4 separate regions of the Homo sapiens genome follow, and all the other regions are linked to region 1. Evidence: fine-mapped expression QTL. A gene starts in region 1. Each other region holds a variant in brackets. All regions are shown on one strand. Distances are from middle to middle.

Evidence for each region. PIP is the estimated chance that this variant, and not a neighbour inherited with it, causes the effect. A credible set is the group of variants that fine-mapping cannot tell apart.
Region 2: its variant is the best candidate, but not a certain one, in a credible set for the expression of GXYLT2 in unexposed skin (GTEx, PIP 0.69).
Region 3: its variant is the best candidate, but not a certain one, in a credible set for the expression of GXYLT2 in coronary artery (GTEx, PIP 0.68).
Region 4: its variant is the best candidate, but not a certain one, in a credible set for the expression of GXYLT2 in esophagus muscle (GTEx, PIP 0.71).

Annotation. Positions count from the first base shown.
Region 1 is chr3:72,885,277-72,890,427 of GRCh38, reverse strand. GXYLT2 (glucoside xylosyltransferase 2) reads right to left here and starts at 2,382. Exons shown (of 7, transcript NM_001080393.2): 1 at 1,920-2,382. The coding sequence starts at 2,194. RefSeq lists silencers at 1,883-2,012, 2,113-2,342.
Region 2 is chr3:72,985,448-72,990,598 of GRCh38, reverse strand. No RefSeq gene overlaps it. Among named protein-coding and RNA genes, the nearest start is that of PPP4R2, 8.8 kb to the left of the region's middle. The variant G/T (reference allele first, on the strand shown) is at 2,122.
Region 3 is chr3:72,938,560-72,943,710 of GRCh38, reverse strand. The region is part of intron 3 of GXYLT2 (glucoside xylosyltransferase 2); the gene reads right to left. Among named protein-coding and RNA genes, the nearest start is that of GXYLT2, 53 kb to the right of the region's middle. The variant T/C (reference allele first, on the strand shown) is at 2,965.
Region 4 is chr3:72,972,489-72,977,630 of GRCh38, reverse strand. It overlaps GXYLT2 (glucoside xylosyltransferase 2), which reads right to left. Exons shown (of 7, transcript NM_001080393.2): 7 at 716-2,654. The coding sequence ends at 2,472. Among named protein-coding and RNA genes, the nearest start is that of PPP4R2, 22 kb to the left of the region's middle. RefSeq lists an enhancer at 160-229. The variant T/A (reference allele first, on the strand shown) is at 2,173.

The DNA.
Region 1 (5,151 bases):
GCTTACTTTGCAGAGCAGGTTCTCAAACTTTGTTGTGCATGAGAAACAATGGGAGGGACGTGTTAAAACACGGTTGCTGACCCCCCAAAGCTTCTGATTCTGTAGGGTTGGGGTGGGGCCCAGGAATCTGCATTTCTAACAAGTTCCCAGATGATGCCTGTGCCACTGGTCTGAAGTCCACACTTTGAGAACCACTGTCAAAGGGTTATGGTTGGGCCCGGCGCGGTGGCTCACGCCTGTAATCCTAGCACTTTGGGAAAGGCTGAGGCAGATGGATCACTGGGCTCAGGAGTTCCTGGCCAATATGGTGAAACCCCGTCTCTCTACTAAAAATACAAAAATCAGCTGGGCATGGTGGCACACGCCTGTTTGCCAGCTACCTGGCAGGCTGAGGCACAAGAATCACTTGAATCTGGGAGGCCTGAACCCGGGAGGCAGCGGTTGCAGTGAGCAGAGATCGCAGCACGGCACTCCAGCCTGGGCGACAGAGGAAGACTTTGTCACAAAAAAAAAAAAAAAACAAAAAAAAAACCAAAAGAAAAACAGCGGTGGGGGGGAAGGTTATGGTGTGGATTATGTAGTTGTATATGTTAAGTGTTAACTGTGACTATTTGTATGTACTGCGGTTAGCACTGTCCCTGGCAATAGGTTAGCGATGTTAAGGATGACAGTTATTATTATCTTACCAGTTGTCCCATCAAACTTAGCAATCATATTAAACTTGCAGTTAAACCCTAATTAATCTCTTACAAGAAACTCCAGTATAGAAGAGGGGAAATCCTATTAATTTCCTAACAAAGATATCCTTAAAGACTGTATACATCCAGAAAGGGCTGTAAAGTGTTATAAGTACTTTAAAGCGACAGATTGTTGGGGTTTTTTCCCCCTAAAACTTGTCAGTACCCATTTGTACTGAGACAGAAGGGAAACAAAGGCTGACACAGCTACTTCTTGAGGTTTCGTGTCTTTTAGTTACAGTAAAGGCACCAAAGAGATTTAGTCATTATGGTCAAAAATAATTTTTCAACTCCTTTCAGGTTGAAATTAAGGAGCCCAGCAAACAAGGACGTTGCAATGGCAGTTAGAAACAACAGTTTTGAAAGGGCAGATGAAACAGACTCGCTACAAGACAAGGGGATTGTTGAAAAGCCCTCCACAACAAAGGAAATGAACTCAAATCCCTAACCTGCGGGGCGTTCCAGCAACCCTGAGGCCAAAAATAAAGCTCTCTGATGAAAAGCCTCCGCGTGTTAGGCTTTGTGTAGGGAAAGAGAGTATCAAACAGAAGGTCGAAGGTTAAGTTGTTTTTCTTGTAGGAGGACCCTTTGACCACACTCGAGCCTGAAACAGAATGAGGATCTGGAAACCCCCACTCTGTCTTTTCTGTGCCACGCATCAGTCCTTTCAAGGAGAAAACTTCTTTTTAATAAACTTAGGTCAAGTGTCCCTTCTGTTCTAAGCATGGGGGTACTCGAGGTTAAATGAGAGGCTGCCAGTCCTTGGTAAACATCTAACTTTTCCAACTCAACCATATCTAAGGTTTCGGTAAAATTCTCCAGTGAAACATGAGAATTAGATAAAACATTCTTGCACCGTGATGGCTTTTGACAAATTAAACAAAGGGTGCATGTTTGCAAGAGTGCAAAAATACGCCTTGCCTTGACAGTTAAAAAATGTAATGTACGAAACCACTTTCCTTGACACTTCAAAAAATGTACGTGATTATCAACACCGAGCTGTTAGGGGGACTCCACCAAGGTGGGTCTTCTTTTCTATCGGGTTAAGAAACAGAAGTGGGCAGCCCGTGGGTGAAACTTGGAAATCTGTCTCTCCAGCGCAAAGCCTCCCTTGGACTTGGCACGGGTGTAGGGAGCGAGACACGGGTCCGCAGATGGGATTCTGGGGTTGCCACGACTCACCTCGCCAACTTCTCCAGTCTCGCAGCGCCCCGGCGGCCCGCTCGGGGGCGCGGACGCGGGGGCCGGCGCCTCCGAACTCCCGGGCTGGCCCCGGGGAGGGCGCCCGGCCCCGGCCAGCGCGCGGGGACAGGCGCGGGGTGGCGCTGCGGGGCGGACGCGGGGCGCGCGGGCAGCGCTGGGGGCTCAGCGCGGCCAGCGCGCAGGGACAGCAGCGCCAGCAGCAGCGCGGCCAGCGCGAGCAAGAGCAGCGCCGCCGCCTTGCTGCGGAGCTTCATGGTGCGGCGCGGCGGCGGCGGCGGCCCCCAGGCGGCTCGGCCCCTCTGCGCATCGCGGCGGCGGCAGGATGAGTGCAGCAGCGCGCGGCGGTCGCCTCCTCCGCCCGCCCGCCGGGGACTGGGGTCGTGGCGGCCGGCGGGCGGCCGGCGGCGGCGGCGACGGCGAAGGAGGAGGAGAGAGAGGAGAGGAGGGGGAGGCGGTGAGAGCTGGGTTACAGGAGGAGCAGCCTGCGCCTACCGTACTGTGTGGAGTAGCCGCCCCTCCGCCCGCCCGCAGCCAGGCTCTCGGGCTTCTGGTAGCTCAGACTCAAAACCACTTCATTCATTCATTCGTTCGTTCGTTCGTTTACTTCCCCATTCACTCACACACCCATGCCATCCACTGTTCCCGCTGATTCTCTCATACCATGATTCACTTATTTGTTGATGTATTCCATGTGCTTCCTCCTTATTTATTTTATCCATCTATCCACACATTTGTGCACTTATCCACACATCCTTTCAGGCAGGAACATCTCTGTCCTGTTTGCCCAGTGCAGGGATCTGCGGGTGGTGGTGCCCAATAAATATCTGTTGAATAAACCCCTATTGCCGCCTCTGTCTTGCCACCTCCCTTTTTCCTGGAGGAGGACATATTCAACAAGGACACATGCAAAATAAGGCAAAGCGAGTAAAAGTAACACGTGATTAGTAGTTGGGGTTTCAGACTCAAAACACCAAAGTAGAACTTGGGACAGCTAGACTGGACCGAACCGATCCATGTAGTCTGAAGAAATTAGAGAATGAATTTCAAAGTTTGGATTTGAAATCTGACACTGTGCTTAACTGGCTTGGTGATCCTGAGGAAGCTGCACAACTTTCTTAAGCCTTAACTTCCTTACGTGCAAAATGGGAATGACAATACTGCTCACTACAGAGGCGTTTTGTGAGCATTAAATTAAATAATGCCTTCAAAGAAACTAGCACAGTGCCTGGCTCACAGTCGGTGCCCAATAAAAGTTCTGTAATGATTAGTTCAATAAAACATAGCTTATAATATACACATAAACACACATTTTATTTTCTTTCTGGCACAGATTTGAGATAGAGTAATAATTTCACAACACAATGTAAGAATGGCTTCTTTGGAGACTTTAACAGCTGCAATCGCCAGATGAAGGTCGTAATTTCCAGACGATTCTTCCAGGGGATCCCCAGTTACAAATCTGAAACATTAGGACACATCCTCTTATGACTCACGGTGAACTGACAGCCAGGACTCCATTAACTCTCTTTTCAGCACACCACAGAACAAAGAACACTAGTTAAGTTATAACAACGTCCCTGAGTTTTTCAGTTTTTTTTTTTTTTTTTTTTTTGGATCACTCTGTAGCCCAGGCAGGAGTGCAATGGTGCAATCTTAACTCACCGCAGCCTCCGCCTCCCGGGTTCAAGCCATTCTCCTGCCTCAGCCTCCCAAGTAGCTGGGATTACAGGCTGCGCCACCACACCCGGCTGATTTTTGTATATTTAGTAGAGACGGGGTTTCACCACGTTGGCCAGGCTGGTCTTGAACACCTGACCTCAAGTGATCCGCCCGTCTCGTTCTTCCAAAGTGCTGGGATTACAGGCATGAGCCACCGCGCCCAGCCCGTCCCTGAGTTTCTACAAGATTCCATGTTGCTTTATAAATAATCTAAAATTTAGTTATATTCTGAATTATTCTCATATTAGCATTTTATTTTAATTCCTTGAGAACCCATTGTATTAAAAGTTCTAGAGATGAGAATATTTAGTAATTTGGAAGCTCTTGCCAAGCAGACATCTAGGAAATGGCAGGGTGCAAGTTCAGTGTGGGGGACATGTTGTAGGTGAGTAAGCGCAAAGAATCCATTAGTTCTCAAAGATGAGGGAGAAGGTTCCATCCTACCAGGAAGCATCTGGAATTGTGGGAAGGCTGACAGGTTCTACTAGCATATGCAAAACCTCCTGCAATGCTCAGGACATACCAACAACGAAAACTATCCTGGCCCAATGTGGGACCCTGTTGAGAAACACTAGGCCAGGCTAAGGCATGATGTTTAGATCTTTCAGGTTTAGAAATGGCCACCACTCTGTTGACATGTGGCCCAGAGAAGCAGGCATTCCCAACTCTGTCTTGCCCCCTCCCTTCTACCTCTAGGAGGACAGATGCAACAAGGATAAACAAAGGCAGAGTGAGTCAAAGTAACACTTGATTAGTAGCCAGGGTTTTAGCCTCAAACACCAAAGAATCATGGACCAAAGAGAGGACTCAGTTTTCTTGAACCTCACTGAAGCCAAAAAAAAAAGCCTAATCTGCCTCCTTCCACTGAGTCCAAACTCAACTTTTGGATTTGTTTGGATTGCTCTGATTGGTGGAAAACTACATCCTCTAATTTTTTTTTCTTTGGATGTGGTCAAATCTCATTTTAGTTGCAAAAGACTTCATTTACAGCACATTCAATAATGAACCAACAGGAGAGTTGCTGACTTTGGAACATATGAATATATAAAAATCCCTCGCAATTCAGGTAGTCAAGATAATAAGCACATACAAGGAAAGCAAACCTCATTTCTCTGAAAACGTTTACATTTTAAAAGATGACTAGGCATACTTGGACGTTCAAAGCAGTAGGATGTCCCTTGCAGGGAAAGAAGGAGGAAAACCCTTTTCCGTGTTGTTAGGCAAATGTATATCAAATATATCCCAATTCCACTTGATAAAGTCAGTTGGATGACCTCCTTGAACCAGGCTAGGGCAGAACACTTAAGAGGGCCTTGGGTGGGGATGTGAATCCAGGAGAAGAGGAACACCAGATCCCATGCAGTGCCAAACACATCTGTTCCACCCTCTAACACAGATGAGGCACGTCGCCCATGTCCCTGGACACCAGATGCACAAGAACAGTCATCAGATGGTTACTGCTCCCATGGCCTGGTGTTTTCTAATGGTCTTA
Region 2 (5,151 bases), 100 kb before region 1:
TGAAACATTGTTATGTGGTGCATGACTGTATATACACAAATACACACACATATATATATTCGATAATTGAATATAATAAAATCAAATAGTGTATTAAGAGAAAAAGGTCTAAAATCAGATATCTAGTTTAATTCCTGGCTTATTACTTCCTAGCTGTTTGAATTCAGGTAAATGATTAATATCAAAATGCCTCAGTTTCCTTATGTATAAATTGAAGTTAATAGTGGTGACTTACTCATTGGTTTGCTGAGAGAATTAAGCCAGTGATCTGACTCAATCAATATTAGGTATTGTTCATACTTACATAGGTTAAGAATTACAAAAATAATTTATGGTTTTTCTTTCTCTTTTGAAATGATTTCAAACTCACATAAAAGTTGCAAGTACAGGCCAGGCGTGGTGACTCAAGCCTGTAATCCCAGCACTTCGGGAGGCTGAGGCGGGCAGATCACTTGAGTTCAGGAATTCAAGACCAACCTAGCCAACATGGTGAAACCCCGTCTCTACTAAAAATACAAAAAATTCACCAGGCATAGTGGCACATGCCTGTAGTCCCAGCTACTCGGGAGGCTGAGGCAGGAGAATTGCTTGAACCCAGGTGCTGGAGGTTGCAGTGAGCCAAGATCTTGCCACTGCACTCCAGGCTGGGTGATGGAGCAAGACTCCATCTCAAAACCCAACCAACAAACAAACAAGTTGCAAGTACACTACGAACATTTCTTTTCCTGAACTATTTGAGAGTAAGTTGCTGAAGAGATACTCCCAACCCCCCGAAAACTTTAGTATATAATTGCTAAACATAATGGTGCAACAATTATTATTATACAACAATTGAGGCCGGGCGCAGTGGCTCACACCTGTAATCCCAGCACTTTGGGAGGTCGAGGCAGGCGGATCACGAGGTCAGGAGATCGAGACCATCCTGGCTAACACGGTGAAACCCTGTCTTTACTAAAAATACAAAAAATTAGCCGGGCGTGGTGGCGGGTGCCTGTGGTCCCAGCTACTCGGGAGGCTGAGGCAGGAGAATGGCGTGAACCCAGGAGGCGGAGCTTGCAGTGAGCCGAGATCGCACCACTGCACTCCAGCCTGGACGACAGAGTGAGACTCCATCTCAAAAAAAAAAAAAAAGCAATATATGTAGTTTATTCTATTTCAATTGTATCTTAAAAGAGTTGTACAAAAATACTGACTCCCTAAACACAAGTCAGAAATTAAAAAAAAAAAAACTAGAATACAATGCGTTTAAAATACATACCTTAAAAGGGGAAATAGGGATAATAAAAGCATTGGGGGATTTTTGGAGTTAAAAATAAATCACCCAACTATGTTATCATTTGTAATAAAATTAAAGTAATAGCCATGCTACAAACTGGAGGAGAAATGTTATAAACCTTGAATATGTAACATCATAATAGCTAGTAAAATCCAATGATGAGAGAAAAATAAGAGAATATATAAGTATGCTAAATTCTAAATACTTTGTGCAGAGTTGATTCAAACTTTCCAAAATAGAAACAGAGATTGGCCGGGCACAGTGGTTCATGCCTGTAATCCCAGCACTTTGGAAGGCTGAGGCGGATGGATCACTTGAGGTCAGGAGTTCGAGACCAGCCTGGCCAACATGGTAAAACCCTGTCTCTTCTAAAAATACAAAAACTAGCCAGGCTTAGTGGCAAGCACATGTAATCCCAGCTACTCGGGAGGCTGAGGCAGGAGAATCACTTGAACCCAGGAGACGGAGGTTGCAGTGAGCTGAGATCGTGCCATTGCACTCCAGCCTGGGCAGCACAGCCAAAGCTCCATCTCAAAAAAATAAATAAATAAAAATAAAAATAGAAACAGAGATGAAGGGCCAGGTGCAGTAGCTCATGCCTGTAGTCCCAGCACTTTGGGAGGCCGAGGTGGGCAGATCACCTGAGGTCAGGAGTTCAAGACCAGCCTGGCCAACATGGTGAAACCCCATCTCTACTAAAAATACAAAAATTAGCTGGGCATAGTGGCTCACGCCTGCAGTCCCAGCTACTTGGGAAGCTGAGGCAGGAGACTCGCTTGAACCTGGGAGGTGGAGGTTGCAGTGAGCCAAGATCACACCACTGCACTCCAGCCTGGGCAACAGAG[G/T]GAGACTTGGTCTCAAAAACAAAACAACAACAACAACAACAACAACAAACAGAAACAGACGTGAAGAAGGAGTAGAGCGGGGAGGAGAATAATTATTCTTACGGTTAGTAAACTTAGACACAATATAGGTATTATTATTTAAGTTTTTTTTTTTTTTGAGACTGAATTTCACTCTGTTGTCCAGGCTGGAGTACAGTGGCGGGATCTCGGCTCACTGCAACATCTGCCTCCCGGGTTCAAGCAATTCTCCTGCCTCAGCCTCCCAAGTAGCAGGGATTACAGGCACGTGCCACCACGCTCAGCTACTTTTTGTGTTTTTAGTAGAGATGGGGGTTTCACCATGTTGGCCAGGCTGGTCTCAAACTCCTGACCTCAGGTGATCCTCCTGCCTTGGCATCCCAAAGTGCTGGGATTACAGGTGTAAGCCATCTGCACCCGGCCAAAATTCCATTTTTTATTCACATGAACAAAAATTACCAATTGCAAATGACAAGACAAAGATTTGAGTTCAAGTGGTCTATTTGGGGGCCAAATCCAAGAAAACACTGGCAGGAGTGGGGAAGTGTGATGGGGATGGCAAGAAGGCCAATAAAGAATATATATTATTAAAGAAGTTACTACTGTGGGCAACTTGAGCTTCTTCACACTGGGAAATTCTGGGATGCAATTCTGGAACAGACCAGAGTTACCCTTCCAGAGAAGATGAGGAGCTGAGGTATTTATCTACCAACTCCTGTCAGTCAGTGATTGTTACTACTCCCAGAGGTGTTAATTTCCCAATACTTTGAGCCTGCCTGTAGGCAAGTGGAGCAGGCTGCAGTGGCAGAAGGGAGCCTTCGGGCAGAGTCACAGGTTGGGAATCAGAATTTTGAGCTGGCATGCATGGAAATAATGTATGTTAAGGGAATAAGACAGGGCATGCTATGCTGGTCATCTATTCTGTGCCAGAAATTGTGGGTTCTAAATAGGCAGATGGCAGCCTTAGGAAGCTTAAATTCTGACACACCATACACCAACTATTTTCTTAATTAGTTATTGACTTTATTTGAATTTCCTCTCATTTGAGCACGTATTGGTTTTATGTTTTAAAACCTCCATACACATACAAACAATAAATATCAGAGAAGCTGTTATAAACGGTGATCAAGTTTTAAACATTTAATTTTTTTTTAAACGCTACTATCGGCCGGGCGCGGTGGCTCAAGCCTGTAATCCCAGCACTTTGGGAGGCCGAGGCAGGCGGATCACGAGGTCAGGAGATCGAGACCATCCTGGCTAACACGGTGAAACCCCATCTCTACTAAAAATACAGAAAACTTAGCCTGGCGCGGTGGCAGGCGCCTGTAGTCCCAGCTATTCGGGAGGCTGAGGCAGGAGAATGGCGTGAACCCAGGAGGCGGAGCTTGCAGTGAGCCGAGATCACACCACTGCACTCCAGCTTGGGCGACAGACTGAGACTCCGTCTCAAAAAAAAAAAACAACAAAAAACAAAAAACAAACAAACAAACAAAAAGCTAGTATCAGTCCTTTTACTTTTCTTTCAACTGTGTGCTTGCAATCTTTTCTTTTCTTTTTTTTTTTTTTTTTTGAGATGGAGTTTCGCTCTGTCACCCAGGCTGGTGTGCAGTGGCGTGATCTCGGCTCACTGCAACCTCCGCCTCCTGGGTTAAAGCAACTCTCCTGCCTCAGCCTCCCGAGTAGCTGAGATTACAGGTGCCCGCCATGGTTTCTGGCTATTTTTTTTTTTTTTTTGTAATTTTAGTAGAGACTGGCATTCTGCCATGCTGGCCAGGCTGTTCTTAAACTCCTGACTTCAGGTGATTCACCCACTTTGGCCTCCCAGAATGCTGGGATGGATACAGGCATGAGCCACTGTGCCTTGCCGCTTGCAATCTTTTCTAATAACAATAATTTAGAAGAATTCAATTTCCTAATATGATATTTAGACTTGCATTGTCACTTGACCCAGAATAGCAATCCTGAAAAAAGAAATGCTATTGTTTTGATAAACTCTAAGTGCTCCATAATGAGACAGGCATAGGTGTTCCCAGGTGTCTCTTTATAGTTACAGCCTATATGCATATACATGACATAGAGCCTATATAAGTATAGTGGATACATCAACATTTATGATTTTGACTGTCACCTCTAGGAGTCTATGGGGACTGTGGAACTGAGGAATTGTTGAAGTGCTCTTGTCCAACAGATCAAATTTATGATAAGGAACCACCCCCTCCCAAATCATTCATTCATTTTAGATTATTGAATTGTTTCTGGTACGAGGGGTTTATTTGGTTAATGATAGTTTTCAATGAGGGGAAAAAGATATATTATAGTTGTCTTAAGTTAAACACCAGGAGAACAATTTTCTTGATATTTTGACCCAGGTTGGCAATACCATTTTTCATCTGAACATGGAGACAAGGTATTTTTCCAAAGATGGAATGATTCTATTAAAATGACATGAAAATTTTATGGCTGGAATCCTAGAAGGATGTGTGGTTTTCAATAAAATATTAATGAAAAAAGCATTGTTAAAATGATACATTTCCCTTGGCATCTTTTGAGCCTTTGAATATAGAGCTATTTCCAGATTTTTCACTTACACAAGACCTTTTTTTTTCTCTGTACTTGTTTGAGTTGTGTTTGCTGTCACTTACAATTTAAAGAGTTTTAATGACTAAAGAAATTGGTACCAGGAGTGGGGTGGTTTCCAGGCAGCCAAAATCCCACAAATATCTATTATAGAGCTATAAAAAACAGATTATGGAAATAGAGAGCATTTACACAAAAAGGAACTTTAACCTCATCTGACCTAACCATGTCATTTTATGAATAAGTAAATAAACTGACTCAATCAATACATTCTCTCTCTTTCTTTTTTTTTTTAGGGACACGGTCTTGTTCTCTCACCCAGGCTGGAGTATAGTGGTACAATTACAGCTCATTACAGCCTTGACCTCCTGGGTTCAAGTGATCCTCCTGACTCAGCCTCCCAAGTACCTAGGACTACAAGCATGCGCCATCACT
Region 3 (5,151 bases), 53 kb before region 1:
ATTTCTATTTATCATAATAAAGAACAGGAAAAAGAGGCTGGGTGCTGTAATCACGCCTGTAATCCCAGCACTTTGGGAGGCCAAGGCAGGAGGATCACTTGAGGCCAGGAGTTCCAGACCAGCCTGGGCAACATGGTGAAACCCCATCTCTACAAAAAAATAAAAAGTTAGCCAGGCGTGGTGGGGCGTGCCTGTGGTCCCAGCTACTCGGGAGGCTGAGGAGGGAGGATCACTTGAGCTCAGGAGATCAAGTCTAGAGTGAGGCATGTTCATGCCACTGCACTCCAGCCTGGGCAACAGAGGGAGACCCTGTCTCCAAAAAAAAAAAAAAGGAAAAAGAGAAATACAGATACCATTACTGCATTTTTTCAGTTAAAATAAAGATTGCTTTATGTGTACTCTATTGTATTTATTCACCCATTTTTATCTTTGTAAATTTTCACTTCCTTAAGCCAAATACATTTTGAGAAGTTATTCCAAGATAATACTTAATTTCTGTAATTATATGAGGTCCCTGTCCTCCTTTTTCCCCCTTTTCCTTTTTGAAGCATCCATCATTTCTGAAACACACATCTCTTTGGGTAAAATGTGTTGTCAAAGCTGCTTGACTGTGCTGATTTTCACCCACTGTGTCTGGCTGTGTTTTTAAATTTTTTATTGTGAGATCATTTTAAATTTACAGAAGAGGTGTAAAAAGTTCAGAGAGTTCCCATATATTCTTCACTCAGCTTTCTCTTGTGTTAACATCTTACATAACAAGAGAACAGTAATCAAATCTAAGAAATTAACCCTGGTATAAATACTACTAAATAAACTAAAGAACTTATTCAGATGTCACCAGTTTTTCCACAAATCTCCTCTTTCAGTTCCAAGATCCAAACACTGAATTTATTTGTCACATCTCCTTAGTCTCCTCCAATCTGTAACAATTTCTCAGCCTTTCCTTTTTTTTTTTTTTTATAACCTGGACAGCTTTGAAAACACTGGCCGGTTATTTAGAACAAAGTCCCTCAATTTGGGTGTCTGATGTTTTCGCATGTTTAGATTGAGGTTATGCTTTATTGGGAAGAACAGAGGTGAAACACGCCTGGGCATATACGATGTTGACCGGGCCAAGTGATATCAGTCTTGATTGCTTGGCAAAGGTGGAGTCTGACAATATTCTCCACAGTCAACTAAGGATTTCCCCTTTTTCTTTACTAAATATTTTGGAGGAGATACTTTAAAAATCATACAAATATCATGTTTCTGGTTAAACTTTCACTCCTTAATTTTAGCATTCACAGGTAGATCTTACCCGCAGTAATTATTACTATGGTGCTCTAACAATGATTTTCTATTTGCCTCCTTCTTTCTACATGTATTAACTGGAATTTTCTATAAGGAAGAGGTGTGATTTTTCTCCATTTATTTATTTATTTATTCAGTTATGTATTTATTTTTTTAATTCAGTTATTTATTTAGATTGGTGTGGACTTATGAAAAATTATTTTAAGTGTTATAATTAAATACTATCATTATTTATTTTGTTGCTCAAGTTGTTCCAGCTCAAGTCATTTGGAGCTCTTTCAGGTTGGCTCCTACCTCTTCCAATATGAACCCCCTCCTTTTAAAAATTATTTTTATTATTAAAAAATATTTTTTAGCACATCCTTACCTTCTGGCACCATAAGGTTAACTCCAGGGGCATCTTGCATTTTCCCTGCCTTCAGCCAGGAATGAACAGTTCTCCCAGGAGCCCTGGGTTCCTTTGGAGGATGGAATTCAGAAACCAATATCTAGGTGCTAGGTGTGTTCATTGCTACTCAGGTGTCACTGCTTCTAGCCTCCTAACAGTAGACAGAGCTAGGAAATACATGTATGTATACAAACCCATGTATACATACATATCCATAATTACTTCTTTTTCTTATTTTTATCTTTTCCTTTTTTTCACAGATGTTGAGTATCCATAATTACTTCTTTACTTATCTGTACCTATATATTTATTTAAAAAAACATGAGTCCACATTGACACTGATCTCAGGACTGTGCGGGCATGTGTGTATGTGTGTGTGTGTCTGCCTGTGAGAAATAATTTGTTAAAGGCAAAGAGAATTCTGAGCTTAGATTACTAGGGTGTTGGGCTAAGATTACTAGGTGTGATTTTAATAAGTGAGGCTGGAGGTAGGGGCGTAGAATGGCCAGGTTATTGTCTCCAGGCAACAGTATGGCAGAGGGTAATGTGCACAGCATCTGGGAAAGAGTGACACACACTAGAGTGGCTGGAATGGGAAATTCATGACTTGGAATAATGCTGAAAGTTAGTATGTAAACTCAGAATGCAAAGGGCCCTCAACATCAGGCCCAGAGGCCTGGACTTGACTCTGCAACAGGGACTCTAGGAGGATTCTGGGCCAGAATCCATCTGATGAGGATAGCATTCAAAAACCAAAAATGCAGGAGTAGTAACAGGAGAATAGAGACACATGTAGCAGGGAGATGAGTAAACAGGATAATATAATAACCCTTTTCTCTATTATCATTGCCACCTTTATTTTTTGTCTTAATTGTAAATACATGCAGACCCAGAACACATGGTCAGAAAGAGGCCTATACCTTCACGGCTCTGTACTTCTGGTGCATGCGAATGTCTTTGCAAATGTGAACAGATAGCTTGCATACATTACGTAAAGCTCTGATGCTCTTTGTCTTTTTTCTCTTTCTTACTGGTTTACTATTTTTAAAAATTGGGCCAGTGCGGTGGCTCATGCCTGTAATCCCAGCACTTTGGGAGACCGAGGTGGGAGTATTGCTTGAGGCCAGGAGTTCAGTTCCAGCCTGGGCAACATACAGATCCAATCTTTACAAAAAATTAAAAAATTAGTCAGGTGTGGTAGTTTGGGTGGGTAATTCCAGCTACTCAGGAGGCTGAGACAGGAGGGTCCTCTGAGCTCAGGAGGTGGAGGCTGCAATGAGCCATGA[T/C]TGCACCACTGCACTCTAGCCTGGATGACAGAGGGAGACCCTGTCTCAGAAACAAACAAACAAACAAAACACGAGTTGTCTGAATTCCACAATACACAAATTCATGCATGTGTGTTGTAAAAACATACAAACAATTCAGCAATCAACAGAGTAAGTTCAAGTTGCTCTTTACCTGTCCTTATCCTCACCACACCACCACTCCAAACCCCCATAACCAACCCCCGCTCTCTCTTCAGAATTAACCAACATTAACAGTGAACCTCATCCCAGTCTGTTCCATGGGGTCTTCATATGGCCAGGAAGTCAGATCTCAACTCAATCAATCCATCACTCTTTAAACTCTTTTTTCTGTAATTCTTATTACTGCCTGAAATTAACTAATTTACTTGCTTTTTGTCATTCTTTTCTGACTTGGATATAAGCTCCATGAGATTAGGATATTTGGATATCTTATTCACAGTCATACTTCTAGGGCCAGTCACATAACTGAGGCTCAATAAATATTACCGAATAAATGGTTGTATGTGTAAATGTTTATAAACACACACGAACACATACATTTTTGCATTTTCATTTTATTTACTTTTTTGAGGTAAGGTCTTGTTCTGTCACCCAGGCTGGAGTACAGTGACACAATCATGGCTCATTGCAGCCTCCACCTCCTGGGCTTAGGCAATCCTCCTGCCTCAGCCTCCCAGGTAGCTGGGATTAAAGGTGTGAGCCACAGCGCCTGGCCATTTCTTTGCATTTAAAAAATACTGGCTGAGTGCAGTGGCTCAAGTCTGTAATCCTAGCACTCTGGGAGGCCAAGGCAGGCGGAGTGGATTGCTTGAGCCTAGGAGTTCAAGAATAGCCTGGGCAACATGGCAAAACCTTATCTCTACAAAAAATACAAAAATTAGCCAGGTGTGGTGGTGCATGCCTGTAGTCTCAGCTACTCAGGAGGCTGAGGTGAGGGAATCACCTGAGCCTGGGGAGGTTGAGGCTGCAGTGAGCTCTGATAGCACCACTGCACTCCAGCCTGGGCGACAGACTGAGACCCATGTTTAAAAAAAAAAAAAAGGAAAGAAAAGACTACCTATAGAATCATACTATACATGCCATACTTTCTAATTGTCTACTTTGAGATACTTCCCTTTAATTTTATGTGTGCAGACAACAAAGAACATTCTGTTTGATGCTGCATATTCTCAAGTATCCTCTTTGATATTCTTGAAATAGTTTAAGATAGTTTAGAGAATAATGAATACTTGGAAAATAATGTTGCTATATAATGCTTCCTTTTCTGTTTTGTTGTTGTAGTTGTTGTTGTTTTTGAAAGTCTTGCTCTGTCACCCAGGCTGGAGTGCAGTGGTGTGATCTCGGCTCACTGCAACCTCTGCCTCCTGGGTTCAAATAATTCTCCTGCCTCAGCCTCCCAGGTAGCTGGGTGCCACCACGCCCGGCTAATTTTTGTATTTTTAGTAGAGACAGGGTTTCACCATGTTGGCCAGGCTGGTCATGATCTTTTCTGTTTTAAAATATATATATAATTGGGAGTTTGTAATAAAATAAATATGCATTCTTAAGTAGTGTTCCACACTGTTTTAATCTGAGATTTTAAGATTGCTCATTTTGTTAAATTATTACCTTAAAATGGGGTGGCACAGGAGAAAATTAAAGCCTATCAATTTTTATTTTTGTTTCTATTGTGCCCCCTTGTGGAATTACATATAACTTACATATTCATTTTTGTGACGTTCTAACAAAGAGCAGGGTGTACCAATGTCATGGCTGCATTCAGGCATGCACCAATCAATGAAGTAGCCTCTTCTGATCAGTTTAGTCTTTGCAAACAAGATTCTGATTGCTTCTGAGTTGAGCAAAGCAATGATGGCTTTGTTCAAGATGGTTCTTCTAAAATTCTGGCTCATTAAACTTGTGTTTGGTCTTTGATTTCATCATTTCAGCTGTGTGGCCAACTGTTAGAACTGCATGCAGGACGTTTTCCACAGGCCTTGCGTAACTGAAAAGTATCTGGTTTCTCCGGCATGTTCTGAGATAATGGCTCTCTAAGATGTTCCATCTGCTTCCATGCTTGCTTTTGGCTTGCTTCCTCCTCTTATCAGGTGTTGCAATCCCAGCCAGCAAGCACACAGTATCTTTCCTTGTTGGCTGTAGACATTCCGTTAGCCATGGCAACTGTCA
Region 4 (5,142 bases), 87 kb before region 1:
GGTAAACTTGGCTCTCATAAAAAAGAAAGGCATTGTATTTCAAGTCTTTACAGTAGATGTTTTTGTGGGACTTATCAAAGGAGAGAAGGAACCTCTTTGAGTTGGTGAGCCATCAACAAATCTGAGTGCCATTTGTGTGTTTCACTGGCCATTCTGAACAAGTAGAAAGGAAACTAGGATGGAAGTTAGGAAATTATGTTCCATCCTGGCTCTTTCACTAAAACCCAATTTATGGGTATATAAGATGCAATTTCCCCTATGTGAAAGACAATTCAAAAATTGCTCCATATCATACGTGTCCATACCACAAATGGAAAGCCTAGTACTAAAGTTACAAAATAATGATGTCACCTCTAGTGGTGAAATAAGGAAACAAAATATAACAGCAAAAATAAGAGTTTCCCGTCATAATGGTAGTTTCCTTAACAAAAATAACCACAGGGCAACTGATCAGAAGGAAAGTATTACTCTAAAATTTTAGATTTAAATTTGTTACTACTATAATAATGCTGCATACCAAAACTGATTGACATCTAAACATTTCTGTGTAGTGCTGAGATTTTCATATCTATTTTTTTTTCAGGGTAAGACTGACTTTTTTTTGCTAATATTGCGCCCATGATATCTTATTGGATTCTAATATATATAAGGATATCATATTTACATCAACAAGATAATATTTTTCTTTTTATACTTCCAGATCATTGTCTCTATATAACAAAAAGTATTTAATATTTTAATTTTCAAAAATGTCTCTGTAAATAAGATACATCTTACACAGACTGTATGTCTTACAGAATAGCAATTATATTCAATATGTTTATTTCTTTGTGTTACAATTTCCTTGTTTGCCTTATAGAGATGATTCAGGACCCTACCAAATCCACTAGGCTGTTGCAAATATCAAGATCATCTATGCAATAGTCATTTGAGAAAAATAAAGCATTATGCAAAATATTGCTATGCTGATACCAACTATATGAGCAACTAGGGATTAAGCCAGATCCCCGTGGGGAACAGAATATTCAACTTCCTCCTTGCAGTGAGGTGATAAAACCTGTATGGACCAGCTAGGTAACCCTAGGGGGAAAGAAATTGTTTAAAGAGACCTTTCTAAGGCTGGTAGGAAGTTGAATTTTCTTACCAATAGAAGCAGCTGAACTATTTGTTTTTTACACATTAAATTTGAAGTTGGTCTCTGATTTCCACCCATTGCCCAAGAGTTTAAGAAAGAGAGATGACCACAGCTACTGATGATTAACAGATCAAATGTTTTTGTCTGTGGTAAACACAAACATTCCTGAATTTCCTCTCAGAAGCTATTGTTGCATAGAAATGTATTATGATTTAGTCCTCCACAAATCAAAGTAATTTTTTTCTTTAGAAATACTCCCAGATTGGCTGAGTGCAGTGGCTCACACTTGTAATCCCAGCACTTTGGGAGGCTGAGGCAGGCAGATCACTTGAGGTCTGGAGATCAAGACCAGCCTGGCCAACATGGTAAAACCGTGTCTCTACTAAAAATACAAAAATTAGCCGGGTGTGGTGGCACACACTTGTAATCCCAGCTACTGGGGAGGCTGAGGCATGAGAATCACTTGAACCCAGGAGGTGGAAGCTGCAGTGAGCCGAGATCCTGCCACTGCATTCTAGCCTGGGCTACAGAGTGAGATTCCGTCTCAAAAAAAAAAAAAAAAAAAAAAAGAAAGAAAGAAAAAGAAGAAATACCCCCAGATACATGCTTCATCCTTTAACACTACCCAAGTATCTGAATGATTCTCTCAGATGTATTTTAAATAAAATTCTGTACACATAATCATCTCATCTAATATTTTAGTCTCCCACATAAAAATCTCAGCAAAAAGGCCAGCTTTTACTGAGATTACCTGTTTTAGATGTGTGTTAGAGTGGAAAATGCAAAAGTAGAGAAAAAAGGTTGTAAGGAACTGCTTTAAAATGGAAACAATCTTTTCCACTGGTCAATAGGATTATGGCTAATCTAATCTTGATGTTGAGCCCTTGACCCATATGCTCTACAAGTGTGTCTCTCTGTTTCAAAAGTGTGTATTACTTTTATAACACGGGTGTGGGGGAGTCAGTTGCATAGAAAGAGTCTCAGGAATGCTAGATCAATATAACACCTCAGGTGCCACTGAAATGGTCTCAGACGTT[T/A]AGGAATTAGAAGGCTCACAAAAGCTATTTTCACAGCTAGCTCAACCTGCTTAAACAATGTTAAATGAGTAATAGTCTTTTTTTTTTTTCCTTAGAGATAAATAGCATTTTAGAAAAAAAAATAAGGAAAAGCATATTCCCTTTTGGGGGCAACTGATTTGGCAAAATTTAACGAGGTTTTTAAAACTCAACAGTCATGGAGCACCATTAAATATTCACACAAAAAGACCCAGGCAGCTTAGAGATTAGTATTTCCTTGGTCACAAGACACCTAATTGACTTGCAACAAGACAAAATATTCAGTGCATCTGGTTGGGGCCAACATGGATGATGACGTGTTTCTCATAAGCCCTTTTCATTGTTTTCTCAATTTGCTTCAGAAAAACTTGCGGGATTCGTCCACATAAAGTGTGCACAGTCTCCAAAAACTTCAGCTGAAGGGGGTAATACATGGATTGAAAGAGATTGTCTTGAAAGGGAAACTGAAAGATGACAAAAAAAAAGTTTATTTAGTAACGGAAATGCCATTTTAAATGCAGATCATTTTTACTAAGAAATGACACAGGAATTACGATAAGCCCACAGGCACAGGTTTGGACAAGTGAAAAGACCTTTGAGGATCTAACTTAAAATCCTGTCTCAGCTGTGCAACCCCAGGTAATCATTTAAACTCTCCGAACCTCAGTTTCTTTACCTCTTTAAAAAGAAAAAGGCTAGGCATGGTGGCTTACACCTGTAACCCCAGCACTTTGAGAGGCCGAGGTGGGAGGACCACTTGAGCCCAGGAGTTTGAGACCAGCCTGAGCAACATGGCAAGACCCCATCTCATTAAAAAAGAATAGTAATAAAATTAAAAAAAAATTTGGGTCCTTAAGGGTCTTACAATCTAAAAATGATGCATGTCTCTAAGGACAGGAAAGTCCATATATCATAGCATGTTTACGCTGAGTAGAAGGAAGGCTCAAGATACTCACTTGAAATCTACTACAACAAAACAATGAATTCTTCATCTTTTTTGACCTTAATGAAGAAACTTTAGGGTATGTCTATGGTAATCTCGTGAAGTTCAGGGTTTAACAATTACTAGTAAAATTTATTGGCAATAAACCAGATTTTAATAATTCAGGTACCAAATATTAGTGGTTGTTTATTTCCCTCTTAATATTGGGCTTTTGAGATCATCACTGCCATTTTTTAAAATTCTTTTGTTTTCTTCATGGAATACGTCTATGAGCAGTATAACCCAAAATAAATCTTTCAGACCACTTAGTTACGCACATGTATCAAAGTTTTATTACAATCTTGTTGAAAGGGAAAAGTCTGGTAGTAGATCAAGTCAAAGATCCACTCTTGGTCAGGACATTTTATATGGAAAGACTAGTGAGAAATGAAAGAAGAATGGTTAAAGATCAGTACACTCTTGCCTAACAGGAGAGGTGGGTGTCTGGTTTCCTAGAACAAATGTTAATCCTTTAAAATTAATCAGAAATACTGCTTACACAGGTTTATCAGAGATGCCAGTTTCTTCTCGGAAGGAGATTATGCATTATGTAATGCAAGAAGGTTCTCTCCCAGACCAGGTTGGTTTGGGATACTTTTTCTTTAATCATGAAATTTAAATCATTGATAAACCCCTTGAAGCCAGTCCTGAATCTGTCCTTTTCACCACTGTAGCTCCAGTAATGGGAACAGGATAGGTCAAAACCTTGGAATCACCCTCAATTCCTCTCTTTCCCCCCACAACCCTCATCCAATTCATCAGCAAGTCCTGTAAACTCTATCTCAACAGCATATCCCAAATATGGCGACTTCTTCCCATTTCCTGCCACCACGCAAGCCCATGCTGGCCCCATTGCTCACCCAGGTGGCTGCGATTAGTCTCACAAATAAATAGCCTTTGTGTTTTCACTCTTGCATCCCTTCCACCACATTACCAAGGTGATATTTCTAAATCATAAATCAGAGCCTATCACTTTCCCGAAGGGGCTTTCCACTGCCATTAGAATGAGATTCCAACTCCTCCCTTGTTCTAAAGGTTCAAGGTGACCTGGAAACTCTCCCCTCTCAGTTCCTCCTCTCTCCTCTTATCTGGCCATTCCTGTCTTTCCAGCACACCAAATTCATTCCTGCCTCCGGGACTTTCCCCTGGTCATTCCTTCTGTTTCACGGGATTTTCCCCAGATTTCCCCTGGGCTGCCTCCATCTGATAAGTCTAGGACTTACAAGCAGCCTCCCTGGTGCCCCTCCCCCAGCTGGTAGAACACTCCTCTCCAGCCCAGGACTTTGGACCCATCAGCCCACTCTTTTTACACCTTTTGAACTCCTTTCACCTTTCACTATCTCAGAGGATTTTTTTTTCTTTTGAGATAGGGTCTTGCTGTGTCACCCAGGCTGGAGTACAGAGGGGCAATCACGGCTCACTGCAGCCTTGAACTCCTGGGCTCAAGTGATCCTCCATCTCAGCCTCACAATTAGCTGGGACCACAGGCACTTGCCATGACGCCCAGTTGTTACTATTTTTTTTCCTAAAGAGGCAAAGTCTTGCTCTGGCTGGAGTACAGTGGGGCCATCCTAGCTCACTGTAGCCTTGGCCTCCTAAGCTCAAGAGATCTTCCCACCCCAGCCCCAACCCCTCCCCACCCAGTAGCTGGGACTACCTGCATGTGCCACCAGGCTAATTTTTTTTTTTTTTTTTTAATTTTTGTAGAGACGCATCTCACTATGTCGCCCAGGCTGAATTTTTCTTTCTTTTTCTCAATCAGTATTGTCTGGCTTCCCCCACCAGAATATATGCTTCTTTTTTTTTTTTTTTTTTTCCGAGACAGAGTCTTGCTCTGTCACCCAGGCTGGACTGCAGTGGTGCGATCTTGGCTCACTGCAACTTCCACTTCCTGGGTTCAAGAAATTCTCCTGCCTCAGCCTCCTGAGTAGCTGGGATTACAGGTGCCTGCCACCACGCCCGGCTGATTT